Linked DNA regions of Homo sapiens. The protein of the gene in region 1 interacts with the protein of each later gene in a pairwise test. Each region holds a gene or a part of one and is shown in the gene's direction. Other genes may lie near its edges.

Region 1 (10,664 bases):
TTATTTGGTTTCAAAAGGCCTGCACTTAATTTTGGGGGATTATTTGGAAAAACAGCATTGAGTTTTAATGAAAAAAACTTAAATGCCCTAACAGTAGAAACATAAAATTAATAAATAACTGAGCTGAGCACCTGCTACTGATTAGTCTATTTTAATTAAGTGGGAATGTTTTTGTAGTCCTATCTACATCTCCAGGTTTAGGAGCAAACAGAGTATGTTCATAGAAGGAATATGTGTATGGTCTTAGAATACAATGAATATGTTCTGCCAACTTAATAAAGGTCTGAGGAGAAAGTGTAGCAATGTCAATTCGTGTTGAACAATTTCCACCAACTTACTTATAGGCGGACCTTGCCAAGTATATCTGTGAAAATCAAGATTCGATCTCCAGTAAACTGAAGGAATGCTGTGAAAAACCTCTGTTGGAAAAATCCCACTGCATTGCCGAAGTGGAAAATGATGAGATGCCTGCTGACTTGCCTTCATTAGCTGCTGATTTTGTTGAAAGTAAGGATGTTTGCAAAAACTATGCTGAGGCAAAGGATGTCTTCCTGGGCATGTAAGTAGATAAGAAATTATTCTTTTATAGCTTTGGCATGACCTCACAACTTAGGAGGATAGCCTAGGCTTTTCTGTGGAGTTGCTACAATTTCCCTGCTGCCCAGAATGTTTCTTCATCCTTCCCTTTCCCAGGCTTTAACAATTTTTGAAATAGTTAATTAGTTGAATACATTGTCATAAAATAATACATGTTCATGGCAAAGCTCAACATTCCTTACTCCTTAGGGGTATTTCTGAAAATACGTCTAGAAACATTTTGTGTATATATAAATTATGTATACTTCAGTCATTCATTCCAAGTGTATTTCTTGAACATCTATAATATATGTGTGTGACTATGTATTGCCTGTCTATCTAACTAATCTAATCTAATCTAGTCTATCTATCTAATCTATGCAATGATAGCAAAGAAGTATAAAAAGAAATATAGAGTCTGACACCAGGTGCTTTATATTTGGTGAAAAGACCAGAAGTTCAGTATAATGGCAATATGGTAGGCAACTCAATTACAAAATAAATGTTTACATATTGTCAGAAGTTGTGGTGATAAACTGCATTTTTGTTGTTGGATTATGATAATGCACTAAATAATATTTCCTAAAATTATGTACCCTACAAGATTTCACTCATACAGAGAAGAAAGAGAATATTTTAAGAACATATCTCTGCCCATCTATTTATCAGAATCCTTTTGAGATGTAGTTTAAATCAAACAAAATGTTAATAAAAATAACAAGTATCATTCATCAAAGACTTCATATGTGCCAAGCAGTGTGTGCTTTGTGTAGATTATGTCATATAGTTCTCATAATCCACCTTCCGAGACAGATACTATTTATTTTTTGAGACAGAGTTTTACTCTTGTTGCCCAGGCTGGAGTGCAATGGTGCCATCTCGGCTCACCACAACCTCCGCCTCCCAGGTTCAAGCGATTCTCCTGCCTCAGCCTCCTGGGATTACAGGCATGCACCACCATGCCTGGCTAATTTTGTATTTTTAGTAGAGATGGGGTTTCACCATGTTGGTCAGACTGGTCTCAAACTCCTGACCTCTGGTGATATGCCTGCCTCAGCCTCCTAAAGTGCTGGGATTACAGGCATGAGCCACTGTGCCCAGCCGACAGATACTATTATTATTTCCATTCTACCGAGAAGGAGACTAAGGCTCTGATCATTTAAATAAGTTGCCTAAGGTGATGCAGTGATATAAGTAGCAGAGCTAGGAATTGAGCCTTGGTAACTTTAACTCTGGACCCCAAGTCCTTAGCTACTAAGCTTTACTGCATGGGGTTTAGTCAAATTAAGACTTTTGGAATATGAGTTACTTTTGAGATTAGCTTTGTGATATTTTTTGTGCTCATTTGTCCAACAAAGTCTATTTTATTTTCATCTTAATTAGGTTTTTGTATGAATATGCAAGAAGGCATCCTGATTACTCTGTCGTGCTGCTGCTGAGACTTGCCAAGACATATGAAACCACTCTAGAGAAGTGCTGTGCCGCTGCAGATCCTCATGAATGCTATGCCAAAGTGGTAGGTTTATTGTTGGAAAAAAATGTAGTTCTTTGACTGATGATTCCAATAATGAGAAAGAAAAATAATGCAAGAATGTAAAATGATATACAGTGCAATTTAGATCTTTTCTTGAGATGGTTTCAATTCTGGAATCTTAAACATGAAAGAAAAAGTAGCCTTAGAATGATTAACAAAATTTAGACTAGTTAGAATAGAAAGATCTGAATAGAGCAATCTCTAAAAAATTTTGATCTTTTTTTCTCTTTTTCACAATCCTGAGAACAAAAAAAAATTAAATTTAAATGTTAATTAGAAGATATTTAACTTAGATGTAAAGTGAGTTAACCTGATTCCAGGATTAATCAAGTACTAGAATTAGTATCTTATGGCAAATTATAGAACCTATCCCTTTAGAATATTTTCAAATCTTTTTGAGGATGTTTAGGAATAGTTTTACAAGAAATTAAGTTAGGAGAGGAAATCTGTTCTGGAGGATTTTTAGGGTTCCCACTAGCATATGTAATGGTTTCTGAACTATTCAGAATCAGAGAAAACTCATTTTTCCTGCTTTCAAGAAGCTACTGTATGCCAGGCACCATGCACAAACAATGACCAACGTAAAATCTCTCATTTTGGAGAGCCTGGAATCTAACTGGAAAGGTGAACTAATAATAATAATATGTACAATCATAGCCATCATTTATTAAACTTTTATTATATGCAAGGCACTGTTTAATTTCATTAGCTTACCTGGTTTACAGAGCAGCTCTATGAGATGAGTGCCATCTTTGCCCCTATTTTAGGGATAAGGATTCTGAAATGTGGAGATGGTAAGTAAAATTGCACAACTGAAGAATGAGTTACATGACTTGGCTCAAATACTGGTCATTGAACTCCAGAGCCTGAATATTCTTAACCACTTACATGATGCAAGCTCACCAAATAAATAGTTCGAATGTATTGTGACAGAGCGGCATTGATATTCATCTATTCATGTGGCTTTGAGTAGGAAGAAGAAAGGATATCATTCTGACCAGAGGGGTGAAAAACAACCTGCATCTGATCCTGAGGCATAATACTATTAACACAATTCTTTTATGTTTCAGTTCGATGAATTTAAACCTCTTGTGGAAGAGCCTCAGAATTTAATCAAACAAAATTGTGAGCTTTTTGAGCAGCTTGGAGAGTACAAATTCCAGAATGCGTAAGTAATTTTTATTGACTGATTTTTTTTATCAATTTGTAATTATTTAAGACTTAATATATGAGCCACCTAGCATAGAACTTTTAAGAATGAAAATACATTGCATATTTCTAATCACTCTTTGTCAAGAAAGATAGGAGAGGAGAGATAAAATAGTTGATGGGGTGGAGAGGTCTATATTTGAATGTAGTCTAAAAATTGTTCTCTTAAGATTGGAAGTATGTAGGCTGGGAGGGTAAATACCAAATCTTGGTATATCAGAACTGAGCATGTCCCTTGAAGGTTAAGAAATAGTTAATGGGCAAATAGAGCATGGCAATATTTTGTAGAGCAGCAAGTAGTAGGCCTTGAATAGATGTCGCTCAAAAAGTAATATGTAAGCTGAACACAAAAATGTAACAAATGAATTTAGATACATATTTGAATATTAAATTCAGGTTGTTTGGGAGATGCACCTAGTCTTTGATGGTTAAACCTTTCCCTCCATAGAAGAGACAGAGACAGAATGGCTTGCTGGACTAATGTCCCAATTCAATAGAGTCTTATCTATGAAGGTTAAAAACAAGAAGAGACATATTATACAGTAGATATTTATTGTGTGGCTCATACACATGGTGCTCTTCTGATTATGGATTTTAGAGATAATAACAGTGAACAAGACATAGTTTCTTTCCTCGAGTAGATTAAAGTCATACATTGACTTTTAATGGTGACTGGCATTCTTAATACATGATTATTATATATTAGGTACCATGTCAGATTAATTATAATACTTTACTACTTTTAATTTAACCCTTGAACTATCCCTATTGAGTCAGATATATTTCCTTCCATTTTCTACTTGTATCTTTCAAGTTTAGCATATGCTGATACATATGAAGCTCTCTCCAGGTTTTATTGAAAGAAGAAATTAATAAATTTATTAATGTCACTGAATTAGGCAACTCACTTTCCCAAGATTATGCAAGTGGTACAGGTGGAACTCAAAGCCAAGTTTAACTAGTTGTTCAGGAGAATGTTTTCTACCCTCCACTAACCCACTACTCTGCAGATGGAGATAATATGATGAATGGAACATAGCAACATCTTAGTTGATTCCGGCCAAGTGTTCTCTGTTTTATCTACTATGTTAGACAGTTTCTTGCCTTGCTGAAAACACATGACTTCTTTTTTTCAGGCTATTAGTTCGTTACACCAAGAAAGTACCCCAAGTGTCAACTCCAACTCTTGTAGAGGTCTCAAGAAACCTAGGAAAAGTGGGCAGCAAATGTTGTAAACATCCTGAAGCAAAAAGAATGCCCTGTGCAGAAGACTATGTGAGTCTTTAAAAAAATATAATAAATTAATAATGAAAAAATTTTACCTTTAGATATTGATAATGCTAGCTTTCATAAGCAGAAGGAAGTAATGTGTGTGTGTGCATGTTTGTGTGCATGTGTGTGTGCATGCACGTGTGTGTATGTGTGATATTGGCAGTCAAGGCCCCGAGGATGATAATTTTTTTTTTTTTTTTGAGACGGAGTCTCGCTTTGTTGTCCAGGCTGGAGTGCAGTGGTGCCATCTCGGCTCACTGCAACCTCCGCCTCCCAGGTTCAAGCCATTCTCCTGCCTCAGCCTCCCAAGTAGCTGGGACTACAGGTGCATGCCACCATGCCTGGCTAATTTTTTGTATTTTTAGTAGAAAATTTTCAGCTTCACCTCTTTTGAATTTCTGCTCTCCTGCCTGTTCTTTAGCTATCCGTGGTCCTGAACCAGTTATGTGTGTTGCATGAGAAAACGCCAGTAAGTGACAGAGTCACCAAATGCTGCACAGAATCCTTGGTGAACAGGCGACCATGCTTTTCAGCTCTGGAAGTCGATGAAACATACGTTCCCAAAGAGTTTAATGCTGAAACATTCACCTTCCATGCAGATATATGCACACTTTCTGAGAAGGAGAGACAAATCAAGAAACAAACGTGAGGAGTATTTCATTACTGCATGTGTTTGTAGTCTTGATAGCAAGAACTGTCAATTCAAGCTAGCAACTTTTTCCTGAAGTAGTGATTATATTTCTTAGAGGAAAGTATTGGAGTGTTGCCCTTATTATGCTGATAAGAGTACCCAGAATAAAATGAATAACTTTTTAAAGACAAAATCCTCTGTTATAATATTGCTAAAATTATTCAGAGTAATATTGTGGATTAAAGCCACAATAGAATAACATGTTAGGCCATATTCAGTAGAAAAAGATGAACAATTAACTGATAAATTTGTGCACATGGCAAATTAGTTAATGGGAACCATAGGAGAATTTATTTCTAGATGTAAATAATTATTTTAAGTTTGCCCTATGGTGGCCCCACACATGAGACAAACCCCCAAGATGTGACTTTTGAGAATGAGACTTGGATAAAAAACATGTAGAAATGCAAGCCCTGAAGCTCAACTCCCTATTGCTATCACAGGGGTTATAATTGCATAAAATTTAGCTATAGAAAGTTGCTGTCATCTCTTGTGGGCTGTAATCATCGTCTAGGCTTAAGAGTAATATTGCAAAACCTGTCATGCCCACACAAATCTCTCCCTGGCATTGTTGTCTTTGCAGATGTCAGTGAAAGAGAACCAGCAGCTCCCATGAGTTTGGATAGCCTTATTTTCTATAGCCTCCCCACTATTAGCTTTGAAGGGAGCAAAGTTTAAGAACCAAATATAAAGTTTCTCATCTTTATAGATGAGAAAAATTTTAAATAAAGTCCAAGATAATTAAATTTTTAAGGATCATTTTTAGCTCTTTAATAGCAATAAAACTCAATATGACATAATATGGCACTTCCAAAATCTGAATAATATATAATTGCAATGACATACTTCTTTTCAGAGATTTACTGAAAAGAAATTTGTTGACACTACATAACGTGATGAGTGGTTTATACTGATTGTTTCAGTTGGTCTTCCCACCAACTCCATGAAAGTGGATTTTATTATCCTCATCATGCAGATGAGAATATTGAGACTTATAGCGGTATGCCTGAGCCCCAAAGTACTCAGAGTTGCCTGGCTCCAAGATTTATAATCTTAAATGATGGGACTACCATCCTTACTCTCTCCATTTTTCTATACGTGAGTAATGTTTTTTCTGTTTTTTTTTTTTCTTTTTCCATTCAAACTCAGTGCACTTGTTGAGCTCGTGAAACACAAGCCCAAGGCAACAAAAGAGCAACTGAAAGCTGTTATGGATGATTTCGCAGCTTTTGTAGAGAAGTGCTGCAAGGCTGACGATAAGGAGACCTGCTTTGCCGAGGAGGTACTACAGTTCTCTTCATTTTAATATGTCCAGTATTCATTTTTGCATGTTTGGTTAGGCTAGGGCTTAGGGATTTATATATCAAAGGAGGCTTTGTACATGTGGGACAGGGATCTTATTTTACAAACAATTGTCTTACAAAATGAATAAAACAGCACTTTGTTTTTATCTCCTGCTCTATTGTGCCATACTGTTAAATGTTTATAATGCCTGTTCTGTTTCCAAATTTGTGATGCTTATGAATATTAATAGGAATATTTGTAAGGCCTGAAATATTTTGATCATGAAATCAAAACATTAATTTATTTAAACATTTACTTGAAATGTGGTGGTTTGTGATTTAGTTGATTTTATAGGCTAGTGGGAGAATTTACATTCAAATGTCTAAATCACTTAAAATTGCCCTTTATGGCCTGACAGTAACTTTTTTTTATTCATTTGGGGACAACTATGTCCGTGAGCTTCCGTCCAGAGATTATAGTAGTAAATTGTAATTAAAGGATATGATGCACGTGAAATCACTTTGCAATCATCAATAGCTTCATAAATGTTAATTTTGTATCCTAATAGTAATGCTAATATTTTCCTAACATCTGTCATGTCTTTGTGTTCAGGGTAAAAAACTTGTTGCTGCAAGTCAAGCTGCCTTAGGCTTATAACATCACATTTAAAAGCATCTCAGGTAACTATATTTTGAATTTTTTAAAAAAGTAACTATAATAGTTATTATTAAAATAGCAAAGATTGACCATTTCCAAGAGCCATATAGACCAGCACCGACCACTATTCTAAACTATTTATGTATGTAAATATTAGCTTTTAAAATTCTCAAAATAGTTGCTGAGTTGGGAACCACTATTATTTCTATTTTGTAGATGAGAAAATGAAGATAAACATCAAAGCATAGATTAAGTAATTTTCCAAAGGGTCAAAATTCAAAATTGAAACCAAAGTTTCAGTGTTGCCCATTGTCCTGTTCTGACTTATATGATGCGGTACACAGAGCCATCCAAGTAAGTGATGGCTCAGCAGTGGAATACTCTGGGAATTAGGCTGAACCACATGAAAGAGTGCTTTATAGGGCAAAAACAGTTGAATATCAGTGATTTCACATGGTTCAACCTAATAGTTCAACTCATCCTTTCCATTGGAGAATATGATGGATCTACCTTCTGTGAACTTTATAGTGAAGAATCTGCTATTACATTTCCAATTTGTCAACATGCTGAGCTTTAATAGGACTTATCTTCTTATGACAACATTTATTGGTGTGTCCCCTTGCCTAGCCCAACAGAAGAATTCAGCAGCCGTAAGTCTAGGACAGGCTTAAATTGTTTTCACTGGTGTAAATTGCAGAAAGATGATCTAAGTAATTTGGCATTTATTTTAATAGGTTTGAAAAACACATGCCATTTTACAAATAAGACTTATATTTGTCCTTTTGTTTTTCAGCCTACCATGAGAATAAGAGAAAGAAAATGAAGATCAAAAGCTTATTCATCTGTTTTTCTTTTTCGTTGGTGTAAAGCCAACACCCTGTCTAAAAAACATAAATTTCTTTAATCATTTTGCCTCTTTTCTCTGTGCTTCAATTAATAAAAAATGGAAAGAATCTAATAGAGTGGTACAGCACTGTTATTTTTCAAAGATGTGTTGCTATCCTGAAAATTCTGTAGGTTCTGTGGAAGTTCCAGTGTTCTCTCTTATTCCACTTCGGTAGAGGATTTCTAGTTTCTTGTGGGCTAATTAAATAAATCATTAATACTCTTCTAAGTTATGGATTATAAACATTCAAAATAATATTTTGACATTATGATAATTCTGAATAAAAGAACAAAAACCATGGTATAGGTAAGGAATATAAAACATGGCTTTTACCTTAGAAAAAACAATTCTAAAATTCATATGGAATCAAAAAAGAGCCTGCAGAACCAAAGTAAGACTAAGCAAAAAGAACAAATTACCTGATTTCAAACTACACTATAAGGCCATAGTCACCGAAACAGCAAGGTACTGGTATAAAAATAGGCACACAGACCAATGGAATAGAACAGAATAGAGAACCCAGAAATAAATCCACATACTTACAGCTAACTGATTTTAGACAAAGAAAACAAAAACATAAGGTGGGGAAAGGACAACTTTTTCAACAAATGGTGCTAGGATAATTGGCAAGCACATGTAGGAGACTGAAGCTAGATCCTCATCTCTCACCTTATACAAACATCAACTCAAGATGGATTAGGAACTTAAATCTAAGGCCTAAAACTATAAAAATTCTAGAAGATAACATTGGGAAAAACCCTTCTACATATAGGCTTAGGCAAGGATTTCATGACCAAGAACCCAAAACAAATACAATGAAAACAAAGATAAATTGCTGGGACTTCATTAAACTAAAGAGCTTTTGCATGGCATGGCAAAAGAAACAGTCAGCTGAGTAAACAGACAACCCACAGAGTGAGAAAAAAATCTTCACAATCTATACTTCTGACAAAGGACTAATATCCAGACTCTACAATGAACTCAAATCAACAAGAAAAAAAAAATCCCATCAAAAAGTGGGCTAAGGACATGAATAGACAATTCTCAAAAGAAAATATACAAATTGAAAACAAACATGAAAAAATGCTCATCATCACTAATAATCATGGAAATGCAAATCAAAACCACACTGTGATACCACCTTACCTCTGCAAGAATGGCCATAATTAAAAAAATAAAAAAATAGTAGATGTTGGCATGGATGCAATGAACAGGAAACACTTCTACACTGATGGTGGGAATGTAAACTGGTACAATTACTATGGAAAACAGTGTGAAGATTCCTCAAAGAACTGAAATAAAACTACCATTTGATTCAATAATCCCACTACTGGGTATCTATCCAGAGGAAAAAAAGTCATTATACAAAAAAGATACTTGCACACGCATGTTTATAGCAGCACAATTTGCGATTGCAAAAATGTGGGACCAACCCAAATGCCCATCAATCAACGAGTAGATAAAGAAACAGTATATATCACTGTTTCTTTATCCACTCGTTGATTGATATACATCATATATATTGATATACATGATGATATATATACACATATATATAGATATACATATATATATGTAGTATTTCATTGTGTGTATGGATATATGTATATATCAATGGAATACTACTCAGCCATAAAAAGGAATGAATTAATGACATTTGCAGCGACCTGGATGAGACTGGAGACTATTATTCTAAGTGAAGTAACTCAGGAATGGAAAAGCAAACGTTATATGTTCTCACTTATAAGTGGGAGCTAAGCTATGAGGATGCAAAGGCATAAGAATGACACAATGGACTTTGGGGACTCATAAAAGACTACAAACATGGTACAGTGTATACTGCTCGGGTGATGGGTTATGGGTGATGGGTGCACCAAAATCTCACAGATCACCACTAAAGAATTTACTCATGTAACTAAACACGACCTCTTCCCCAATAACCTATGGAAATTAAAAAATTTTAAAAAATAAAATAGCTAGTAATATTACAAAACACCCATATGATGCAATGTTATACCATCACTCAATAGCATTTTCAGGGCCATTTGTCCTGTAGGTGTTAAATTTATTAAATACTTATTATATGCCAAAATGTAAAACATGGCTTTTCTTTACTATTCAGACACTATAAGAAATTTTGAGGAACAAAGGAGATAGAGATGATGATAAGTGTGGTTGACAGAATTGGGGGAAAAAAGTGATCTTAGAAGAAATTTAAGACAGTTTAGAATAACAGCACTCAAAGAGTGTAAGAAGTTTGGAGAAGCCTTATTGGAAGAGGAATTAGAACACCTGGAGAAACATACAGTAAGAAGTGATGAAGGTCTACTGAACTGATGAGCTGGAGGAGTTGGAGGGTGAATGTTTCTTGTAAAACACTAAAATATTATTCTGGGCCTCTTTTTCCTGTTCCCAGAGGTAAGTCATATCATACCTTTGTCTATAAATGTACAAGTCTATCAGACCTTTGTTTATGAATTTACAGGCCTCTTAGATCTTTGTCTATTAATTCACATACTTATTTTATCCTTATTAGTTTGTGTTTTTAAAATTTT
Region 2 (11,656 bases), on another chromosome or scaffold:
GAAACTGAGGCAGGGGAATAGGTTGAACCCAGGAGATGGAGGTTGCAGTGAGCCGAGATTGTGCGGCTGCACTGTAGCCTGGACAACAGAACAAGACTTTGTCTCAAAAAAAAAAAAAAATGCTTGAGATCTATTTTGTTGCTTTGTGTTTTAATAATAATTATGCTGTGATTCCTAGGGAAATCACTTTGGATATGCTACAGTTTCCTCTTTTAAAAACAATTTAGATCATTTAGTTGTTTGCTTAAATGTCTTTAAAGGCCTTAAATTGAAACAAAATGATATTGAGTTTATTTCTTGTACTCTAAATAAAGATATGAACTATGAGCCATCAGACACAGATCATAGATTGTGATAAACATGGGGAACTCAGCACAAGCCTACAAGAGAGTAAAGTCTTAAACATTCAATTGCCAAAAGATTGACTAAGGCTCTGTTTAATTATTGGTGTTATAAAAAGTGAGTAATATTTACCTGGCCATAATCGTATTGTGTAAAAGTCACTTATCTTTCCTGCCAGGTGCCACATTTCTCACAGTTATTTAAAAGAATGAGAAGAAATCTTTACTCAGTCACTCCTTTCCAAAATGTACCATTCCATCATCTTATATAATTTGGCAGAGGAGAGGATTATTAAGAAAGTTGATAAAAAATAAAAAGTGCCAACCCTAGCTCAGGTTCTGTACAAAATCAGTGACAAATGCCTATGTTAGCAAAGGGTACAAGCAAAAATGCACTACTAAGCAATGCTTTGGCAGTAACTAACTGGTTCAGTACTTATAAGACTTCTGTTAAAAACTCCTCCATATCTGATGCAATCAGTCTATTTGAATGATGAAAATTTTAAGGTGTTTGTTGTTAATAAACCCATATTATAAACATACTGAAAGGGCCTTTCTAGTTTGTTCATGCAAGGGGTTAATGATAAATCCAATTTTGCAGGAATATCAATTCCTAATAGATATGTCATAATGTCTTGGAATAGTGTTGTCACGAAGTTTACACTGACTGTAATTCATTAACTAAACTTTAACATCATCATGCAATATGGGTTCAGGTGACATTGTTGAATACTTTTTGGATTTTGGCAAAGATGCCTTAGAGTCATTAGTTATCTGTCAATAATTTACGAATCCTTTCTGAAATCTGTTAGCAAATATTTTTTATCATTATAAACATATTCTTGTAAATGTGAGTCATTAGAAGTATTCCATGTTGTGGTATCGAATGAGTTCAATGGGGTAGTGAAGGTGTTTAAAACAGAATGTTGTAATGGAAAATGCCCACACTTGCCAAATGGAAAGGGTCAGATGATACCTTGATTGAGAAAAAATAAATACAAAAACTGAGGGTGTGATTTGTTTTGTGTCCTCCCCCCCGCATGGCCAGAACATAAATTGCTTGTTAACTGTCACTGAGGCTGAGTCCCAAGCATCTGTTATTTGTACCACATGTGAACATTACTCTAGCCTCACTTTCAGAAAAATATGTTCATTTCTCACAAAGTACTGAGTACGTATTTCTATTCAATCAGCCTGATGGATAAGCTTCAAAGGACCAAAGTAACTCATTAATATAATGTTTCCTCAACAAGCCAGTGAGTTTTGTAGGAAAGCAAGAGAGTGACAAATGGCAAATAGTGTCTTTTAAAGATTCTGTTAGGAGTTATTAGGCAAGCTGGTAATACTACCACCCCCAATTTTTTGTACATTCTTAAAAATAATTATGTCTGATTAGAGGCAGACAGTATAGCATGAAATTCAATCTTTGTGCTATTACATGCTTTGTTAACCATGTACAATAAGGATGAGAAAAAAAGCAAATCACTTTATTTTTGGATTTATTATTATTAATAATTATTTATTCCTTATTCCTCATTATTTATTATTTCATTTATTATTTAAGAGATAGAGTGTCACTATATTGTGCAGGCTGGTCTCAAACTCCTGCCCTCAAGTGATCCTCTTGCTTCAGCCTTTCAAAGTGCTAGGATTTCAGGTGTTAAGCCACCGTGCCCAGCCACAAATCACTTTATGATGCTGTTTAATTATATGAATCCTATGAGGTCTTCTATAAGGTCTCTAATAGTGTATGTGACTAGGATAGAACTGGTGTCAGAAACAAAACCCAAAAACAGAAACTTTCGTATGTCTTCTAAAATTCCACTAAGGAAGATGTGTCTTTCACTTAAGATCCCAAGTCACAAAGCCCATAATCACTTTTTTTTTTTTTTTTTTGAGATGGAGTGTCACTTTGTCACCCAGGCTGGAGTGCAGTGGCACGATCTTGGCTCACTGCAACTTCCGTCTCCTGGGTTCAAGCAATTCTCCTGCCTCAGCCTCCAGAGTAGCTGGGATTACAGGCGTGTACCACCTTGCCCAGTTAATTTTTTGTATTTTTAGTAGAGACAGGGTTTCACCATGTTGGCCAGGCTGGTCTTGAACTCCTGATGACAAGTGATCCACCTGCCTCAGCCTCCCAAAGTGCTGGGATTACAGGTGTGAGCCACTGCGCCCAACCTCCATATTCACTTTTGATGACACGTTGAGTACTTTCTTTCTCTGACATGATACTGAGTACTTTATTTCTCATTTACATCTTACCACAAAAACTACTGGATTTCATCATTTTTGTCATTTTTACTTATGAGGAATTCAAGCCTTAAAAAAGCCAAGCATTACTTTGCCACCAAGAAGGAGGCAAAGTACAAATGGAAGCCCTGAGCTTTCTGACCTCAAATCCTAGGCTCTTAACCACCCTGCTACCCTGCCTTCATTCTTACCATGATCTCATAATTTGTGCTTATATAGGCTGCATTCAGCAACCCAAACTGACTGGTTTCCTCAGGAAAACTGTCAGAGCTACAACCAGTGCATTGAGAGGATCCGATGGACTATGTAATTTTATGGACTGAATGATATGAAAGGCCTCAGGAAATGTGTATCCAACACTTTGGCAGGTGTAAAAGAAGACCTACATATTTCAAAGCAGTTACAGATGCAAAATACGTCCATAGAAATATATGTTCCACACACTTGGAAGGCTAAGGCAGGAGGATCGCTTGAGCCCAGGAGTTCGACACCAGCCTGGGCAACATGGTGATATACTGTCCCTACAAAAAAATACAAAAATTAGCTGGGCCTCATGGCTCACACCTGTAATCCCAGCACTCTGGGAGGTCGAGGTGGGTGGATCACCTGAGGTCAGGAGTTTGAGACCATCCTGGCCAACATGGTGAAACCCCATCTTTACTAAAAATACAAAAATTAGCTGGGCGTGGTGGTGGGTGCCCGTAATCCCAGCTACTTGGGAGGCTGACATAGAAGAATCACTTGAACCCGGGAGGTGGAGGTTGCAGTGAACCGAGATCATGCCACTGCACTCCAGCCTGGGTGACAGAGTGAGACCTTGTCAAGAAAGAAAGAAGAAAGAAAAGAGAAAGAAGGAAAGAAGGAAAGGAAGGAAGGAAGGAAGGAAGGAAGGAAGGAGAGGGGGAAGGGAGGGGAGGGGCGAGGGGAGGAGGGGAGGGGAGAGGAGAGGAGAGGAAAGGAGAGGGAGAAAAAGAGAGAGAGAGAGAGAAAGAGAGAGAGAGAGAAGATGGGGAAGGTCCCTTCTGGGTTTCCATCTAAAATCAAAGAAGAAATCATTGGTTTCAATAATAATATTTTAAAATCCACCCTATGATTTTTTTTTCTTTAAAAGAAAAATATCAATCTAAGAAAATAATACCTAACATGGTGTTAATGAAAAGTAGGTTGGATTGGTTATGTGTACATAAGAACTTAAAGCTCAAAGGAAAAACAGCACGTATACCAGCATGTTGACCTGGCTCCGCTGACAGCCAGGATTACCAGTTATTTCACTTGGTGTGTACCAGTGCTACTTGGAAACTACCCACCTTCCATGAGCAGGTCTACTCAATAAAATCTTACTTTCATGAGGCTGTGAGGATATCCAAATGGGGACATTTCTTATACTCAGAAGACCACAAGTCACGAATGTGGCCACTTCTGATTCTGACTTCAGGGGTCACCCAGACCCCAAGCCACCCCAACCCGATAAAGGCAAGTTCACCTTGGGCAAAGTTCAGAGCCAGCAGCACAGCTGAAAGGCAGTGGACAGCACTTTCAGATGCTGTATTCCAACATTTCAACTGACATGAAGTGAGGCAAGAGGGGAAATAACTAACAGTAATCTGATTAAAAAACAAAAGAGAAAAAAAAAAGGGCCTGGTGTGGTGGCTCATGCCTGTAATCCCAGCACTTTGGGAGGCCGAGGCGGGTGAATCACCTGAGGTCAGGAGTTCGAGACCAGCCTGGCCAACATGGCAAAACCCCATCTCTACTAAAAATACAAAAATTAGCCGGGCATGGTGGCACGTACCTGTAATCCCAGCTACTAGGGGGGCTGAGGCAGGAGGATTGCTTGAACCTGGGAGGCGGAGGTTGCAGTGAGCCAAGATTGTACCACTGCAGTCCAGCCTGGGCAATGGAGCAAGACTCTGTCATTAAAAAAAAAAAAAAAAAAAGGACTGGCCTGGGTTTACAGGTAGCTCACACCTGTAATCTGAGCACTTGGGGAGGCTGAGGCAGGAGGACTGCTTGAACCCAGGAGACCAACCTGGGCAATACAGCAACACACTGTCTCTACAAAACATTTAAAAAATTAGCTGGGTGTGGTGGTACACATCTGTAGTCCTAGTTACTCAGGAGGCTGAGGCAGGAGGATTGCTTAAGTCCATGAGTCTGAGGTTGCAGTGAGCTATGACTGTGCCACTCCATTCCAGCCTGGGTGACAGAGTGAGATCCCATCTCTAAATAAATTAATAGACCATAAATTCTGTAATGTGAATCTTTAGACAAAGACTGCTAAATCTATCATCTGATATATGAAGTTTTATTACAACAAATGTTTATATATTGAGTTAAAAATTATCTGTACCCATACACACAACCTGCATTTACTTAATTTAAAAGGAGTGTCAATATTAAAATTGAGGATTTTGGCCAGGTGCGGTGGCTCACGCCTATAATTCCAGCACTTTGGGAGGCCGGGTAGATCATTTGAGGTCACAAGTTTGAGACCAGCCTGGCCAACACGGTGAAACCCCGTCTTGACTAAAAATGCAAAAATTAGCCGGGCATGGTGGTGTGCCCCTGTAATCCCAGCTACTGGGGAGGCTGAGGCGGGAGAATTGCTTGAACCCGGGAGACAGAAGCTGCAGTGAGCCGAGATCGTGCCACTGCACTCCAGCCTGGGCAACAGAGCGAGAACCCATCTCAAAAAAAAAAAATTGTTATTTTGTTGTTATTGTTGTTTTTGAAGACAGAGTCTCACTCTGTTGCCCAGGCTGGAGTGCGGTGGCATGATCTTGGATTGTGTTCTTCCAGGGTTGCAGAGAGAAGTGCAACAGCGTCTCATTGCAACCTCTGCCTCCCAGGTTCAAGCAATTCTCCCGCCTCAGCCTCCCAAGTAGCTGGGATTACAGGAGTGCACCATCACACCCAGCTAATTTTTGCATTTTTAGTAGAGATGGAGGTTTCACCATGTTGGCCAGGCTGGTCTCGAACTCCTGACCTCAGGTGATCCGCCTGCCTTGGCTTCCCAAAGTGCTGGGATTACAGGTGTGAGCCACCATGCCCAGCCTAAGAATAATAACTTTATAACTATGAAAAATGTGTTACATATTCACCATTTTGCCAGCATTAATCTCAAAGCATAAGTTTTACCTTTTGGGGATAAAGAGATAGATTGTGTTTTAGCCATATGACCAATGTAGAAACAAGCTAAGGTTAACTCCTCATCTAATGAATAGGCCCGATAAAAAAGTTGGTTGACCACAACATGAATAAATAAATAACCATAAGCTTGGAAATGCTACCTGTAGTATTTCAGAGTGTCGATCACATTTGTAGTCATCACTTAAAGAATTAATGTCTGCCAATGTTATCATCTAAAATGTATTTACAGAGGTCAGAAGAGCTATGTCTGTCCTCCTCTATGCAAAGAGGTGATGACATCAAGGGGTATGTCACAAGCCAAAGTTTAGTTAGCCTAAGTTAGTTAGCTGGTTTGCAGTTTTTATCCACTAAGTCTGATCTTCTGACCCCTCAGTTTTACAACTTTCCACTCTCTGTGCTGCATAGCACCTCTCCACTTCTGAGTTAATCATTTCTTTGCCATTATCTGGCAAGAATTCTTATCTCTTTTGCTGTCACTTTATAACAGGGTCCTCTTATCAACCTGCATAGAGTCATGTGATGAGTCAAAGCCTATCAAAAGTTTCCATTCTTCTGATTAGAAACCATCATGAAACTGGATACATGGTTTACAGCAGGTCACTAATGTTGGAAAAAGTACAGAGTCCAGGGAAAGACTTGCTTGTAACTTTATGAATTCTGGATTTTTTTTTTTCCTTTGCTTTTTCTTAACTTTCACTAAGGGTTACTGTAGTCTGATGTGTCCTTCCCAAGGCCACGAAATTTGACAAGCTGCACTTTTCTTTTGCTCAATGATTTCTGCTTTAAGCCAAAGAACTGCCTATAATTTCACTAAGAATGTCTTCTAATTCAGATACTGGGGATTTACAAGAGTCTTTAAAGCACGGACTTACACCTATTGGTAAGTAGGAGTTTCTCTATTGATCATCTATTTATTCTGCTACTACATACATATAATTTAATCTTGTTGATGGATTTTGCATTTTAAGTCATGGCTTTTCCTATTATGTTTATTAAAAGCACACAATAAGCCTATGTATATATATCACACATTTATCTTTCTTGCAGTTCAAAAAAAGCAAATGGATATTTCAACATATGAATATTATTCATTATATCTAGTGTTTACTGGTGTCATTCTAATACCCTAATCAGCCAGAAAATATAATTTATACTTTATCAATTTCAACTTTAATATTTTCTGATAATTTTTAATCAGAAATAATAAGCTAAAATTTGAACAATTTGAAACAAGTTAATCATATTGAGTGATCATTGATCAAACTTTAACAGATAGCTGTCAAGTATTTGTTACTTTTCAACCCACACAAAAGTATGGTGTCTTATTCTCTGCTTATACCGTAAAAAATTTTCATTTTATTTTCCTGGGGAATGAAAGTCATGCCCCCACCTCCAAAAAAAAAAAAAAAAAACCAAAAAAACTAGACCATCATTAGTAAAGGATTTGAAGAGCTACTGTTTCTCGCAACAATTAGTATATTTTGTTTTTACAAACAGAAATAAGTAAATAAAGCTACTATTCATTTAAAAAATAGAGTTACAAACTTATGAATTTTATAGCAAGACTACATTCAATTAATTCTAAAAGTAAAGGACTGAAGGGAAGTGATTCCCAGTGATCTGTAATTATTTGTCTGTTGGAAGTCAGGCCCTTCTGCCTTTCCCCAGTTTTTGAAGGACCTGTGCCTTTTCTGGCAGCATTTGCCTAGGCTTTCAGACTGGAATTTCCCTCCGAATTTGCAGGGGCCTGTCATGAGCTCTCTGAGTCTCAGCTCCATTATAACAAGAAAGAAAATCAAGGCTTGAGTTTTTCCTCTTTTTTCCTTCCTAGTCAGCTGACTCCACAGAATGCAGTGGAGTCACAGATTGCTTTTTTTATGGGCCAACTACACCCTAAAGTATATCACTTGAGGAAATGTTTACCAAAAATGTTCTATACTTACGAAAAAGAAAACATGGGGAAGGTAAGCAGGGTGTAACACACAATCAATTGTTCTGCAGATAACACAGAAAATACAGGCACAAGAAAGATGAGAGAGCAGCACACAACCATTTCGCATCTTTTTCGTCGGGCAGAACCGCCGCGGTGCGCAGGCAAGGAGTCCTTCCCGGCAGCTCCGCGCAGCTCCGGTTCCGCGTCCGGGGCCGCAGCTAGAGCGCGCTCGGGCCGGAGACGCGGACTGCGCGCGCACGGGGGACGCGCGCTCGGGGGCTCGCGCCCGCGCGGGCGGTCTTGGGCTCCTGCTGCGCGCAGCCCCAGCTGGCCGCTGCCAAAATAGAGTTGAGCTGGGTCGGGAGACCACGCACGCCGATCCCTCACAGTCTCCCCCACACCCCATGGGTGAATTAAAGAGGGTAAGGTAGGGGAAAGAGACGCTGTTGCACTTTTCTCTGCAACCCTGGAAGAACTGTGTTTCCAGCTACCGCACGCGCAACTCACATCGCAAGGGACCGAGGCGGTACACTCTGAGCGTAAACAGAGAACACCTGCAGCTCTGGAATCGGTCCCACCGCAGAGGGCTGGGAACCGGAGGACTGTCGGTCCAGCCCATAAGGGGCTGCTGGGGACTAAACCTCAAGAAAAGTACCGAAGAAGGCTCTCCCCTGGCCTCAGCGAGACTACCCCAACATCCTAAACCTGTGCAGGCACTTCCGGGCGCCGGATTCCGGGATAACAAAATTCCAGTCAATTTGCCGGTAAAAGAGACCTCTTTCAGGATCTTGTTCGCAGCCACCCGCCCCTTCCCAACCCAAGCACATCCCCTCCGCCTCCTGGTATTGCAGCCCCGCAGGTGGTTGTGAGGTGTCCGCACCTGCAACATCTTAGTGACCCTGAGGCGGCTGTGGCACCGGGAGACAATCTGTTTACCTCGTAGCCTCCACGAGGGTGCTAACGGTCGTTCCCAGGGTGAATGGCTGGACGGAGCCATCCAAAGGGCTGAGGGAGAGGAACAGAGGGCGGTGAGGAGCCTTCGGACTGAACTATTGGATTGAAGGGCCTGACCCGATTCCTGAGGGAGAGATGCCCCTTGAATGGGTCTTTCTGATTGCCCAGGGTAGCCCCACTGGGAAGAACCCACGGGTGCAGCTGTAGAGAGTGTCTGAGGGTCTCGAGGGTAGCTTTCAGATGGCAAATTGCAAGTTGGGCTGTGTTGAGTGGTTCACAAAACCGAGCCCGGTGTATGTAGACATCAGTCAGGGTTTACAATTCTATATTTAATTCAGTTGTGTTGTACTAGGAAATGAGCCTCCTTTTGTTTAAAAAGCTGTCTCCATGGTTTTTAACTAGGGGCTACATCTTGTATGCACACTGATGGTTACATGAAAGTTTTGTATAGATGTCTGTGCTTGTATAGAAAAGCAGAATTAAGATAAAGTTGTTCCTTCTGCCTACCTGCAAGATAATCATTCATTGTAGTGTAAAAGCAGCACACTCAGGTTATAACTAGATTGTTCCCTTAAAGTTAACTAACTCTGGGACACTGGCCAGACTCTTGGTTTCTGGTCTTGGTTTACTTCTTTCTCCCAAGTGGGATGATTCTATTGAATAATATGCAGTACTAACTTTAGAAGCTTTTTATACTTACCTATATCAAGAAAAGAGCCATATCTGTGTGGTAGGAAATGTTATACATAAAACAAATATTTATTGACCACTCCCACAGTGCCCAATATTATGCTTTGATTCATATTAAATTTCCATAATTCTTCAAATTAACTGCATTTGCAGAATATTTTATGCACTCAGTATAATATTGCATATTATCCACAGAAGGTTATGTCTGCATACTTAGGGGTACATGATACACAGTGCAAACACTGTATTGAGTCTGTAATGTGAGTCTTGCTATCTGGTCCCCTGAACACTCTGAGTCTGATTTTATTTCAGTGATAACCTCCAGCAAGCTCTGTGCTCATAAGGATCTCTGAAAGTAGACGTTTCATCAGCGGAAAGTGTGATAGCCATTATGTCACCCTAACCTCCAGCGAGCTTTATTTAGAATGCCAGCCACACAAGCCCATGTTCTGATTCTCATAGTTGGGGCTTAGGCTGCCAGTTTCTTCTATGAAGCTAAACTCTAGAGCCTCCCTTCTTTCCATGCCCGAGTCCATCTCCAAAACAGTGCTTCTCAGATTCCTCTTTTCTGGCCTGGATCCACAGGTAGTGACCAGAGTTAACAGAGTTCTTGGGCCAGGCACAGTGTCTCAAACTGGTAATCCCAATACTTTGGGAGACTGAGGATGGAGGATCACTTGGGCCCAGGAGATCCAGACCAGCCTAGGCAACATAGTGAGACCCAGTCTCTACAAAAAATAAAAAAATAAATAATTAGCTGGGTGTGGGTGTGGTGGCATGTGCCTGTAGTCCTAGTGACTAGGGCTTGGGGGTTGAGGTAGGAAGATCACTTGAGCCAGGGAGGTTGAGGATGCTGTGATTGTGCCATTGAACTCCAGCCTGGGCAACAAAGTGAGACCCTATCTCAAAAAAACAAAACAAAACAAAACAAAACAAAAAAAGGATTTCTTTTTCTTTAACACCTTTTTTTTTTTTTTTTTTTTTTTTGAGGCAGAGTTTCACTCTTGTTGCCCAAGCTGGAGTGCAATGGCATGATCTTGGCTCACTGCAGCCTCAGCCTTCTGGGTTCAAGAGATTCTCCTGCTTCAGCCTCCCAGGCAGCTGGGATTACAGGTGCACGCCACCACGCCTGGCTAATTTTTTGTATTTTTAGTAGAAATGGGGTTTCACCATGTTAGCCAGGCTGGTCCCGAAATCCTGACCTCAGGTGATCCACCCACCTCAGCCTCCCAAAGTGCTGGGATTACAAATGTGAGCCACCACACCTGGCATCTTTAACACCTCTTCTAACAAACCAAGAGAGATTTATAGAGGAAGGGAGAACAGAGGCTTGTTAATGCTTCTCTCCTTTACTTGACCCCTCTACCAGACACAATGTCTAGGATTATCTTGGATTCAGCCTTGAGCATAAGTTGAGCTAGAGAAGGGCACATTGTCAGACTTCCACCTACAGGCCCAACCCAATCCCCACCCCCAGGGATGCACTAGGCAGGCAAGACAACTTCACTCCGCAGCTCTAGAGTCTACCTTAGGATAGAACTAGTTCTTTGAGTTGCACTTCCTCACGCTTCACCTTATTGGAACAGACTTCTTGGAAAAATCCAGTTGGCTTCAAGGAACTTCAGGAGGGCATTGTGCTCTGGGGAGGCCCTGGGGAAGTGTTGAAATGTGACCAATATGATCTTGAGAGATCAAGCTTGAGAAAACCATGTGAACTGGAACTGACCAGGCAAGCTGATAAAGGTTGTCTCTTCTTTAGTCTTTTGGGAAGCTGTTATGTATGTTTTTGTGTGGTTGATAAGTAAGAAAAGATATTTGGAGTGTAACTTTTAAACACCAAATAACCTGAATGCAGATGACCATGAGCACTTATATGAGCAGTTTTATCTGGTGATAATGTAATTGTCCCCAAGGACTTTGTCAAGCCCTGCAAGACAATCAAGTTAGCAAGCACATCCCACTGGAAGGTGATCCTAGAATGGTTAGTGATTCCCTTTTTACTTTCCTTACAGAATGATGAGTTTGAGTGAAGCTAAGGGGAAAGACAAAGGGGAACTGATATATATATATATATCCAGCGTAATATATTTCTTTCCTGGCACTGTCTCATTTAACTATAAAGTTTACTTTGTTAACCCAATTTTACTGATTAAAAAATGGAATCAGAGGTCAAGCAATTTACTCAGCTTGTCAAGAGAATGAACTGTAAATAGAACCCAAGAAATATTCTGAAATACATACTCTTTCTCCAAAGTGGTAACCACTTGTTCTTGTTGATATAAAGGAATTATGATTTAATACAATGTTGGTCTATGCAGACTTTCCTCCAATGGACATT
Region 3 (10,664 bases), on another chromosome or scaffold:
GCAACCTACAGAATGGGAGAAAATTTTTGCAATCTACCCATCTGACAAAGGGCTAATATCCAGAATCTACAAAGAACTTAAACAAAGTTATAAGAAAAAATCAACCCCATCAAAAAGTGGGCGAAGCATATAAACAGACACTTCTCAAAAGAAGACATTTATGCAGCCAACAGACACATGAAAAAATGCTCATCATCACTGGCCATCAGAGAAATGCAAATCAAAATCACAATGAGATACCATCTCACACCAGTTAGAATGGTGATCATTAAAAAAGTCAGGAAACAACAGGTACTGGAGAAGATGTGGAGAAATAGGAACACTTTTACACTGTTGGTGGGACTGTAAACTAGTTCAACCATTGTGGAAGACAGTGTGGCGATTCCTCAAGGTTCTAGAACTAGAAATCCCATTTGACGTAGCCATCCCATTACTGGGTATATACCCAAAGGATTATAAATCATGCTGCTATAAAGACATATGCACATGTATGTGTATTGTGGCACTATTCACAATAGCAAAGACCTGGAACCAACCCAAATGTCCAACAATGATAGACTGGATTAAGAAAATGTGGCACATATACACCATGGAATACTATGCAGCCATAAAGAAGCATGAGTTCATGTCCTTTATAGGGACATGGATGAAGCTGGAAACCATCATTCTGAGCAAACTATCGCAAGGACAAAAAACCAAACACCACATGTTCTCCCTCATAGGTGGGAATTGAACAATAAGAACACTTGGACACAGGGTGGGGAACATCACACACCAAGGCCTGTTGTGGAGTTGGGGGAGGGGGGAGGGATAGCATTAGGAGATATATCTAATGTAAATGACGAGTTAATGGGTGCAGCACACCAACGTGGCATATGTATACTTATGTAACAAACCTGCACATTGTGCACATGTACCCTAGAACTTAAAGTATAATAAAAAAAAATTAGTGCAGGAGCAGCAAGCAGTTCCCATGCTACTCTAGATCTGAGGAGTAGCTTTGGGTGCATTCCTGAAAGTGCAGGCTAGAATCTGTTTATTGATCAATTTAGTACTGACACAAGCCTGTAATATGCTGTAATAAACTTTCTGTTTAAAAAAAAAAAGGTTGACCATGTGTTTATAATTGTTAAAGCTGGGTGATGGATACATGAGTGTTTAGTATATTATCATTTCTAGTATTGAATATGTTTAAAATTTTGAAATTTTCCATAATGGTTAAAAATTATAACCTATGCAGATTTTATTGTACATAAGAATAATCTGGGAGAGTTATTTAAAAAGCTGATTTCTGGACCTCCACCCCAGAAAAGTCCAGTTGAGTTGGACAGAGGTAAGGCCCAGAAATCCTTGTTTGTAATCAGCATCCAATATTGAATAAAATTGCTTTAGGGGGTGGAAGCCATTGAATATTGAGTATGTGAATGACAGGAGCAAATTTGTCCCTCCGTATTTGAACACGCTGACTCCAGTGGATAATGAAGTGGAAAGGAGTGGGATAAGATGCAGTTGTAGTAATCCAGGAAAGGGCCATGGATGAACAGTGTGGTAGACTAAAGATAAGCCCGGGAGACAGATAAAAGAAACACACAGGAAGGCCAGGCGTAGTGGCTCACACCTGTAATCCCAGCACTTTGGGAGGCTGAGACGGGCGGATCACGAGGTCAGGAGATCAAGACCATCCTGGCCAACACGGTGAAACCCCGTCTCTACTAAAAATTTAAAAAATTGCCAGGCACAGTGGCTCACGCCTGTAATCCCAGCACTTTGGGAGGCCGAGGCGGGCGGATCACGAAGTCAGGAGATCGAGACCACGGTGAAACCCCATCTCTACTAAATATACAAAAAAATTAGCCAGGCATGGTGGTGGGCACCTGTAGTCCCAGCTACTCGGGAGGCTGAGGCAGGAGAATTGCCTGAACTCAGGAGGTGGAGCTTGCAGTGAGCCCAAATCGCACCACTGCACTCCAGTCTGGGCGAAAGAGTGAGACTCCATCTACAAAAAAAAAAAAAAAAAAAAAATACAAAAAGTACAAAAAATTAGACCGGGCGAGGTGGCGGGTGCCTGTAGTCCCGGCTACTCGGGAGGCTGAGGCAGGAGAATGGCGTGAACTTGGGAGGCAGAGCTTGCAGTGAGCCGAGATCGCGCCACTGCTCCAGCCTGGGGGACAGAACGAGACTCTATCTCAAAAAAAAAAAAGAAAAAAAAACAAAAAACACACGGGAGATGGAATTGGTTAAATCACGTGACTACTGGAAGGTGAGAGATAAAAGCACAATAAATATTTCCAAATTTCTGATTATGCTACTGGATAGATGGTGAAGCTGTTCTTTCAGTGAGGAAAGGAACATAGGAAAGGAATTGTGTTTGGCTGTTTTTGTAAGACATGAGTGTGATGTGTGGGTGGCTGTAGTATATAAAATAAGTAGGATGAAGCTATGCAGTTGTGTATTGAGCTACTGGATGAAGAGAATGGAGAGAGGCTATTGAACAGGAAGAATATTAAGAGATAGGGATTACCTCCAAATTCCTAACACTGCTTTAACCCTAGAGCCTTCAAATCTCTTTTCTTGGATTTCCCCATCTGTGAAAACGGAGGTAGAAACAGCCATGGTAGCATAAAATAATCAGCTATATCAGTGGCAGCCTTAAGATTGGAAAACCAGGAAAGGACATTCTTCTTTTCCCTTTCTGCAGAACTGGTCTTCAGGGTCTCCTGTTTCTACTCTCTCATTTTTACTGCACCCTTTTCACTCTCTCCCTTCCCGTCGTTCCAGGGTGGAGAGTTCTGAGGAGCCTGTATATGAGAGCCTTGAAGAGTTTCACGTCTTTGTCCTTGCTCATGTGCTTAGGAGGCCCATAGTCGTCGTGGCAGACACCATGCTGAGGGACTCCGGAGGGGAAGGTGAGTCAGCCAGTCAGTCCTCACTCCATGCTGAGCACCCCCTTTTGCAAAGCCTTAGGCTAAGCATTGGAAGGAAGGCAGGAAAGGGGATATATAGACCCTTGGGGAAAAAGCAAGTTATCAATTAGAATAGTGCAAAATTCTCAAGAGATTCTGAGTAAAGCAGTTGGGATTAGTTGACAGGGCTTCTTAGGAAAGAATTATTAAACATGTTGGAATGAAAGCAGGGAGGGACTCAGTTGGCAGAGTGGGATGTAGGGATTGTCCACTAGGCAGAAACACAGCCTTCATAATAATCTTCATGGCTTCCTGCAGCATTTGCCCCTATTCCCTTTGGAGGAATCTATCTGCCTTTGGAGGTCCCAGCCAGCCAGTGTCACCGCTCCCCTCTGGTGCTCGCCTATGATCAGGCCCACTTTTCTGCACTCGTGTCCATGGAGCAGAAGGAGAATACCAAGGAACAAGGTGCTGAATGACATGTCTTTTGGTCTGCATTATTTTCACTTGAAAAAATTGAATGAGATCTAATGTAGGAGGAAAGAATTAAGTGACATGCAAGCCCAGACAGCACATGTTGATACTGTTTTATTAAGCCAGAAGTTACGCCAGAGTTTTCAAATTAAAAAAAAAAGGGTTGGGAGAAAAGCAAGACCTATATACCCTCTTCTGGAGTAAAGGCTTATGATTAAGGTGTAAGAGCTTCTAAATGATGCTTTTCTAATTTGTCTTAAATTATGACTGAATTCTCTGAATATACATTAACTGGAAAGAACATCATGAGAGTTAGTTGACTGACTGGTGGGGACTCAGGGAGATTTGTGGCCTAAAACATATGCTGCGTGGTAGCGGGAAAACTAGCCAATTAGTTTTAATACCGGGGTAATTCACGTGTAAGAATTGAGAAGTGACTACAATTAAAGACCTTAGTATGATTTTAGTGAAATAAGTCTGTGTTCAGTTACCTTTCTCTCTTAAGGAGATTCCTTGATGATATGTTTCTTCCTCTCCAGCTGTGATCCCACTTACAGATTCAGAGTATAAGCTGCTGCCCTTGCACTTTGCTGTGGACCCTGGAAAGGGCTGGGAGTGGGGCAAAGATGATAGTGACAATGTCCGATTGGCCAGGTAAGCCAGGCCTAGTCTTTTCATCTATTTTGTGCTGGGATTTCTTCCACATGTGGCATCCATCTCCCAGGGATTTTTCCTCAGCTCAGGCAAGACAGTCACAAGCTAAGATGAGTTTTGGGAAGATGGGGAGGTAGAGGAGAGGTTGGGCACCAGGACTCTTTCATGGTGCAGCTGCTTTTTCTCCCTGTGAAAGAGATGGGAATCCTAGCATCTCAACTTGTTCTTTTCTTACAATAGGAAAAGTGTTCATACACTGATTCATCTCTAAAACATTGATCAGAAAATCAGGATAATCAGGCCGGGCATGGTGGCTTATGCCTGTAATTCCAGCACTTTGGGAGGCTGAGGTGGGTGGATCACGAGGTCAGGAGTTCGAGACAAGCCTGGCCAATATGGTGAAACCTCGTCTCTACTAAAAATACAAAAATTAGCCAGGCGTGGTGGTGCGTGCCTGTAATCCCAACTACTAGGGAGGCTGAGGCAGGAGAATCGCTTGAACCCAGGAGGCAGGGGTTGCAGTGAGCCGACATCGTGCCACTGCACTACAGCCTAGGCAACAGAGTGAGAGTCTGTCTCAAAAAAAAAAAAAGAAAGAAAGAAAATCAGGATAATCAAATCACATGTCTTAGCCCAAGTGAGAGGAGTTTTAAAGAGTTGATCAAGGCTGGGTGCGGTGGCTTATGCCTGTAATCCCAGCATGTTGGGAGAAACCACCATCAGAGTGAACAGGCAACCGAGGCAGGCAGATCACCTGAGGTCGGGAGTTTGAGACCAGCCTGGCCAACATGGAGAAACCACATCTCTACTAAAAATACAAAATTAGCCAGGCGTGGTGGTGCATGTCTATAATCCCATCTACTCGGGAGGCTGAGGCAGGAGAATAACTTGAATCCAGGAGGCGGAGGTTGCAGTGAGCTGAGATGGTACCATTACACTCCAGTATGGGCAACAAGAGTGAAACTCCATCCAAAAAATAAATAAATAAATACGTGATAAAAATAGTTTGCTCTGAGTTTTTGCCTTTCTGGAATTTAATAGCAAGAAAAATATGTTCCCTACCCTCTCAGCCCCCACTCTACCTCCCTGTGGCTTGTTAAGCCTTCCTTCTGCCTCCTGCATCAACTTCCTGATGGAGAGTGTATGAATGCAAAAGCTCCTCCCTTAGCACTTACCTAGTGCTTCACTCTCTGGGCTCCTGCCACTGGGTCCCAGCTAAGAGAGTTTGATTTTAAAATCCAGAGTTTATGGCTTTTTAAAAATAACCTCTCACCTATTTATCAAAAGCTCCTTCTAAATAATATTTACAACAACAACAATGATAATGGCTACTATCTAGTATTTCCCATTTTCCAGACACTGTGCTGGGCTCTTTCCAAACACTGTTTTAATCTTTACAACAACCCTACAGGATAGATATTATCTATACCCATTCTCAGCTGCAGCTGAGTTTCAGGGAGGTTGAAGTGACTTGCTCAAGGTCATAAAGCTTATTAATTGGTGGAGAAATAGTTCAAACCCAACCCTATTTGAGTCCTAAGCCATGTAGCCCTCTCCCACCCTTTCTCCCAACTATATCAAATTGCTTTGCTTTTAAAAGGTGACAGTAATTTGTTTTTTCTCTTTTTCATAGTGTAATTCTGTCCCTAGAGGTCAAATTGCATCTGCTGCATAGCTACATGAATGTGAAGTGGATCCCACTGTCCTCTGATGCACAGGTGAAGACTTCTCCCACATCTACCCTGGTGTGTCTTCATTTCATTTTCAGTGACAGAACAAGGAGATCTGGGATGGTTTCCTTCTGAATCTATTCTGAGTGGTGGCTTACAATTCAAGGTTAGAAGTAACTAGAAGATGTCAGATAAGTTCCAAAGACAATTTTTCCTGTTTTTATTGTATTTTTTATTTTTATTTTTGAGATGGAGTCTTGTTCTGTCACCCAGGCTGGAGTGCAATGGCACAATCTTGGCTCATTGCAACCTCCGCCTCCTGGGTTCAAGCGATTCTCCTGCCTCAGCCTCCTGAGTAGCTGGTATTACAGGCATGCGCCACCACGCCCAGCTAATTTTTGTATTTTTAGTAGAGGACAGGTTTCACCATGTTGGCCAGGCTGGTCTCGAATGCCTGACCTCAGATGATCTGCCCGCCTCAGCCTCCCACAGTGCTGGGATTACAAGTGTGAGCCACCGCGCCTGGCCTTTCCTGTCCTTTTTTTTTTTTTTTTTTTCAGAGGAAGTCTTGCTCTGTCAGCCAGGCTGAAATGCAGTGGCACAATCTTGGCTCACAGCAACCTCCACTTCCCAGGTTCAAGTGATTCTCCTGCATCAGCCTCACGAGTAGCTGGGATTACAGACGTGCGCCACCACACCCGGCTGATTTTTGTATTTTTAGTAGAGACGGAGTTTCACCACGTTGGCCAGGCTAGTCTCGAACTCCTGACCTCAGGTGATCCACCCACCTTGGCCTCCCAAAGTTCTGGGATTACAGGCATGAGCCACCACACCCAGCCCTTTCCTGCTTTTTAAAAACCGTTAGTCTCCTGTTTTCCACATCTCCTCTCCAGCCAGTCTCTGTTATCTGATACTAAAACATATATATATTTTTTGAGACGGAATCTTGCTCTTGATGCCCAGGCTGGAGTGCAATGACACGATCTCAGCTCACTGCAACCTCCACCTCTTGGGTTCAAGCGATTCTCCTGCCTCAGCCTCCCGAGTAGCTGAGATTGCAGGTGCCCGCCACCATGTCCAGCTAATTTTTCTATTTTTAGTAGAGATGGGGTTTCGCCATGTTGGCCAGGCTGGTCTTGTGATCCGCCTGCCTTGGCCCCCGAAAGTGCTGGGATTACAGGCGTGAGCCACCGCGCCTGACCTAAAACATATTATTATTATTATTATTATTTTTCTTTGAGATGGAGTTTCACTCTTTTTGCCCAGGCTGGAGTGCAATGGTGCGATCTCAGCTTATTGCAACCTCCGCCTCCTGGGTTCAAGCGATTCTCCTGCCTCAGCCTCCTGAGTAGCTGGGATTACAGACATGCACCACCACGTCCGGCTAATTTTGTATTTTTAGTAGAGATGGGGTTTCTCCATGTTGGTCAGGCTGGTCTGGAACTCCCGACCTCAGGTGATCCACCCACCTCGGCCTCCCAAAGTGCTGGGATTACAGGCATGAGCCACCGTGCCTGGCTTAACATATTCTTTAAGAAAGGTTTTCTGGACTGTTTGTTGAACTTGAGATGATCATTATTTCGTCCAAAGTCTTCTGTAGATAGACCTCTGTTTTGGGCACTAGGAGACGGAGTAGCTTAAAGAGCTCCTAATTCAGTGGGCTCTGAGTTAGAACAGGAGCACAGGAGTAGGGTCAAATTGATAACTCCAATGCAGAATGTATAAAAGTTGAGGGGATGCAAAGTGGCTAGACTTGGTTAGTTTTGATTAGTCAAGACTTTCTTGAGATTAGTTTCGAGCAGAATTTGGCATAGAGAAATGTATAATAAAGAACATTCTAATGTCTGGGCCTCTCACCCGGAAGCCACGTATCATATGGTTGCTCATTGTTCTAAATGAACAGTAAGGCTTTATTCTACTATCTCCTTATTACAGAAGGGAGTCAGATTGCAGTGGGGGAGAAAGCTGACTGACTGGAACCCAGGAAGGACAGTGCCATCCTGGGTGACCCTTCCCTCATCATGACAGAAGCCCTTCTCTGGAGCAAGGCAGTCACTAGGCAATCACTCAGAGGACGGAGTTCATAGGTGTCCATCCTTTTCTACCTGGCTAATTTCTATAGCCATGGCTGCAGGGAGCTCCCTGAGCCAGATGGATGGGCTAGAGGTCCCTGGGGGATTCCCCCACCCCAGGCTGCTGGGATAACTGTCAACAGTGTTCTTGTCTCTTCCAGGCTCCTCTGGCCCAGCCTGAGTCCCCCACCGCCTCAGCTGGAGATGAGCCCCGGTCCACTCCTGAGTCTGGAGACTCAGACAAGGAGTCAGTTGGCAGCAGTTCCACCAGCAACGAGGGCGGCCGGCGGAAGGAGAAGTCAAAGCGAGATCGGGAGAAGGACAAGAAGAGAGCAGATTCTGTGGCTAACAAACTGGGCAGCTTTGGCAAAACCTTGGGCAGCAAGCTCAAGAAGAACATGGGGGGCCTGATGCACAGCAAGGGTTCAAAGCCTGGAGGGGTGGGGACAGGGTTGGGAGGAAGCAGCGGCACTGAGACACTGGAGAAGAAGAAGAAAAACTCACTGAAGAGCTGGAAGGGTGGCAAGGAGGAGGCAGCTGGGGATGGGCCTGTGTCTGAGAAGCCCCCAGCTGAGTCTGTTGGTAACGGAGGGAGCAAGTATAGCCAGGAGGTGATGCAGAGCCTGAGCATTCTGAGGACTGCCATGCAAGGGGAGGGGAAGTTTATTTTTGTTGGAACCCTGAAGATGGGTCACCGTCACCAGTATCAGGAGGAAATGATCCAGCGCTACCTTTCTGATGCTGAGGAGAGATTCCTGGCAGAACAGAAGCAGAAGGAGGCAGAGAGGAAGATCATGAATGGAGGAATAGGGGGTGGCCCTCCTCCAGCCAAAAAGCCAGAGCCAGATGCTAGGGAAGAGCAGCCGACCGGTCCCCCAGCAGAGTCCAGGGCAATGGCATTTTCCACTGGCTACCCTGGGGACTTTACTATCCCTCGGCCGTCTGGGGGCGGAGTCCACTGCCAGGAACCCCGGAGGCAGTTGGCAGGGGGTCCATGTGTCGGGGGCCTACCACCATATGCCACCTTCCCCAGACAGTGCCCTCCTGGGCGACCCTACCCCCACCAGGACAGCATCCCTTCTCTGGAGCCAGGCAGCCACTCTAAGGATGGACTTCACAGGGGTGCCTTGTTACCACCCCCCTACCGAGTGGCTGATTCCTATAGCAATGGCTACAGAGAGCCCCCTGAGCCAGATGGATGGGCTGGAGGTCTCCGGGGCCTTCCCCCAACTCAGACCAAATGCAAACAACCGAACTGCAGCTTCTATGGACACCCTGAGACAAACAACTTCTGTTCCTGTTGTTACAGGGAAGAACTGAGGAGGAGGGAGCGGGAACCGGATGGGGAGCTCCTGGTGCACAGGTTCTGAACGGGTGGAACACTGAAGGGCAAGGAGGCTAAACAAAGTTAAGCTCAACTAATTGGCTCATCAAGAACACAGTCCCCATGTTGAGGGGGAAAATGCAGTAATGTTTGTGGGAGCCTGGCTGGAAACTTTTAAGTGTGTGCACACAGGAGTGCTGCCAGGCTGGCAAGAGCAGGTCGGGGCTGGATGGCACCTCAGGGGCTGTACTATTCCTCTGCAGAGCTTGACTTGATGAGGTTTGAGGTACAAGGGGAAAAGATGGCGATTCTGTCTTATAACCTCCTGGGTCCCATCCAGGGACCTAAGAGAAAGTAGCAGGGGAAGGTTTGGTGTGTGGGGGTGGGAGGTGGGCAGAAGTCTTGGGGAGGAATGGGCAAAGGAGGTTCTCAGTCAATAAAACCAAAGTTCTTTAGGTTGGGAAAAAGCACATGGTGGAGTGAGAAGTGTGGAGGGGAAGTGGGAAATTGGACACATTTGCTATTGATTTGAATTAAGCTAGAAATTAAGGTTGGATAAATTCTTCCCCTTGAAGGATCTGGAAAGACAAGGCAGTAATGTGTCCTCATGGGTGCCTGTTAGGAGGTGGGGGTAGTTTAAATCCGTTTGTTTAGATGGGAAAGGGAGGAACTTAAGAGGGAAATCCTTTTCCTCTTAAGGTTTATTTCCTTCCAAGCAGTCATATGTCATCTGTTACAGTTTGAGAAGAGATTGCTGATTACCCCCTGTCTTTTCCTCATCTAAGTCTTTAATTGTATTTGTTTAAAGGGAAGAGTGTGGTGAGAACAGCCGTCATGTGTGTTGCATTTTCTCCAGGTGAATTGGGGCAGAGCTGATCTATTTTTTAACCACAGCAATAACCATACGTTGGGGTTTGAGTGCACCTTGGGAGGGGTGGGAGGACAGACATTTTAGCCAGAGGCTGTTTCAAACAAAACCAAAAACCTAAGTAGAGCATTACAGGCCTCTGTGGCTGCTGCGTTTCTGTAGAAAGCAACTTATTTTATTGACTTTTTTTTTTAAGGAAAAGAAATAAAAAGACCCCAGCAAGCAAAAACATTTAAAAAATGATTTTTTTTCCTCCTACTTAAGTGGTTCTTTCTCCCTTTGCTCTACTTTTGGAGAATGAACTTAACATCCCGGCTTCTTTTGTTAAGCCATAGCTGACCTTAATCTGTGGTTAGTTTATTAAAATAATTAAAAATACTTTCTAAGAAGAGATATTTTTGATATTAGGACTGATGTTGAAACATATAGGGGCAATTTATAAAAAGGTAGTTAGAGAAATATATTTTAGTGAACTATAACCACAGAGCACAGATGACTCCCAATGAGCTGATCTGTCTTTAGGTTTCTCCCTTTCCCTGACCCTTCCCTGTTCTCTAGGGGCTGGGAGTGGGGATGCGGACACAGTAGGGGGAGCTCCTTCGCATTTTGCACAAAGCACAAGTCTGAACAGCCTATGCTCTGGCCAGAGCCATTTCTAAGAGCTTTAAACCGGAAGACCTATCCTGGGCCAATTTTCCT

What was found.
Region 2: the proteins of ALB (region 1) and NR5A2 interact in a two-hybrid assay, tested with the Homo sapiens proteins (one study listed by BioGRID).
Region 3: the proteins of ALB (region 1) and OTUD7B interact in binary tests that used the Homo sapiens proteins (3 or more experiments, as listed by UniProt).

Annotation. Positions count from the first base shown.
Region 1 is NC_000004.12:73,413,076-73,423,739, forward strand, and holds the end of ALB (albumin preproprotein), read left to right. Parts: intron 1-344; coding exon 345-559; intron 560-1,959; coding exon 1,960-2,092; intron 2,093-3,180; coding exon 3,181-3,278; intron 3,279-4,455; coding exon 4,456-4,594; intron 4,595-5,012; coding exon 5,013-5,236; intron 5,237-6,431; coding exon 6,432-6,564; intron 6,565-7,178; coding exon 7,179-7,223; 3' UTR 7,224-7,246; intron 7,247-8,016; 3' UTR 8,017-8,407; downstream 8,408-10,664. UniProt on the Homo sapiens protein: Binds water, Ca(2+), Na(+), K(+), fatty acids, hormones, bilirubin and drugs. Its main function is the regulation of the colloidal osmotic pressure of blood. Major zinc transporter in plasma, typically binds about 80% of all plasma zinc.
Region 2 is NC_000001.11:200,021,291-200,032,946, forward strand, and holds the start of NR5A2 (nuclear receptor subfamily 5 group A member 2), read left to right. Parts: upstream 1-6,419; 5' UTR 6,420-6,557; coding exon 6,558-6,621; intron 6,622-11,656. UniProt on the Homo sapiens protein: Orphan nuclear receptor that binds DNA as a monomer to the 5'-TCAAGGCCA-3' sequence and controls expression of target genes: regulates key biological processes, such as early embryonic development, cholesterol and bile acid synthesis pathways, as well as liver and pancreas morphogenesis.
Region 3 is NC_000001.11:149,942,336-149,952,999, reverse strand, and holds part of OTUD7B (OTU domain-containing protein 7B), read left to right. Parts: intron 1-2,778; coding exon 2,779-2,906; intron 2,907-3,221; coding exon 3,222-3,371; intron 3,372-3,916; coding exon 3,917-4,031; intron 4,032-5,664; coding exon 5,665-5,749; coding exon of another isoform or gene 5,750-5,776; intron 5,777-7,934; coding exon 7,935-9,143; 3' UTR 9,144-10,664. UniProt on the Homo sapiens protein: Negative regulator of the non-canonical NF-kappa-B pathway that acts by mediating deubiquitination of TRAF3, an inhibitor of the NF-kappa-B pathway, thereby acting as a negative regulator of B-cell responses.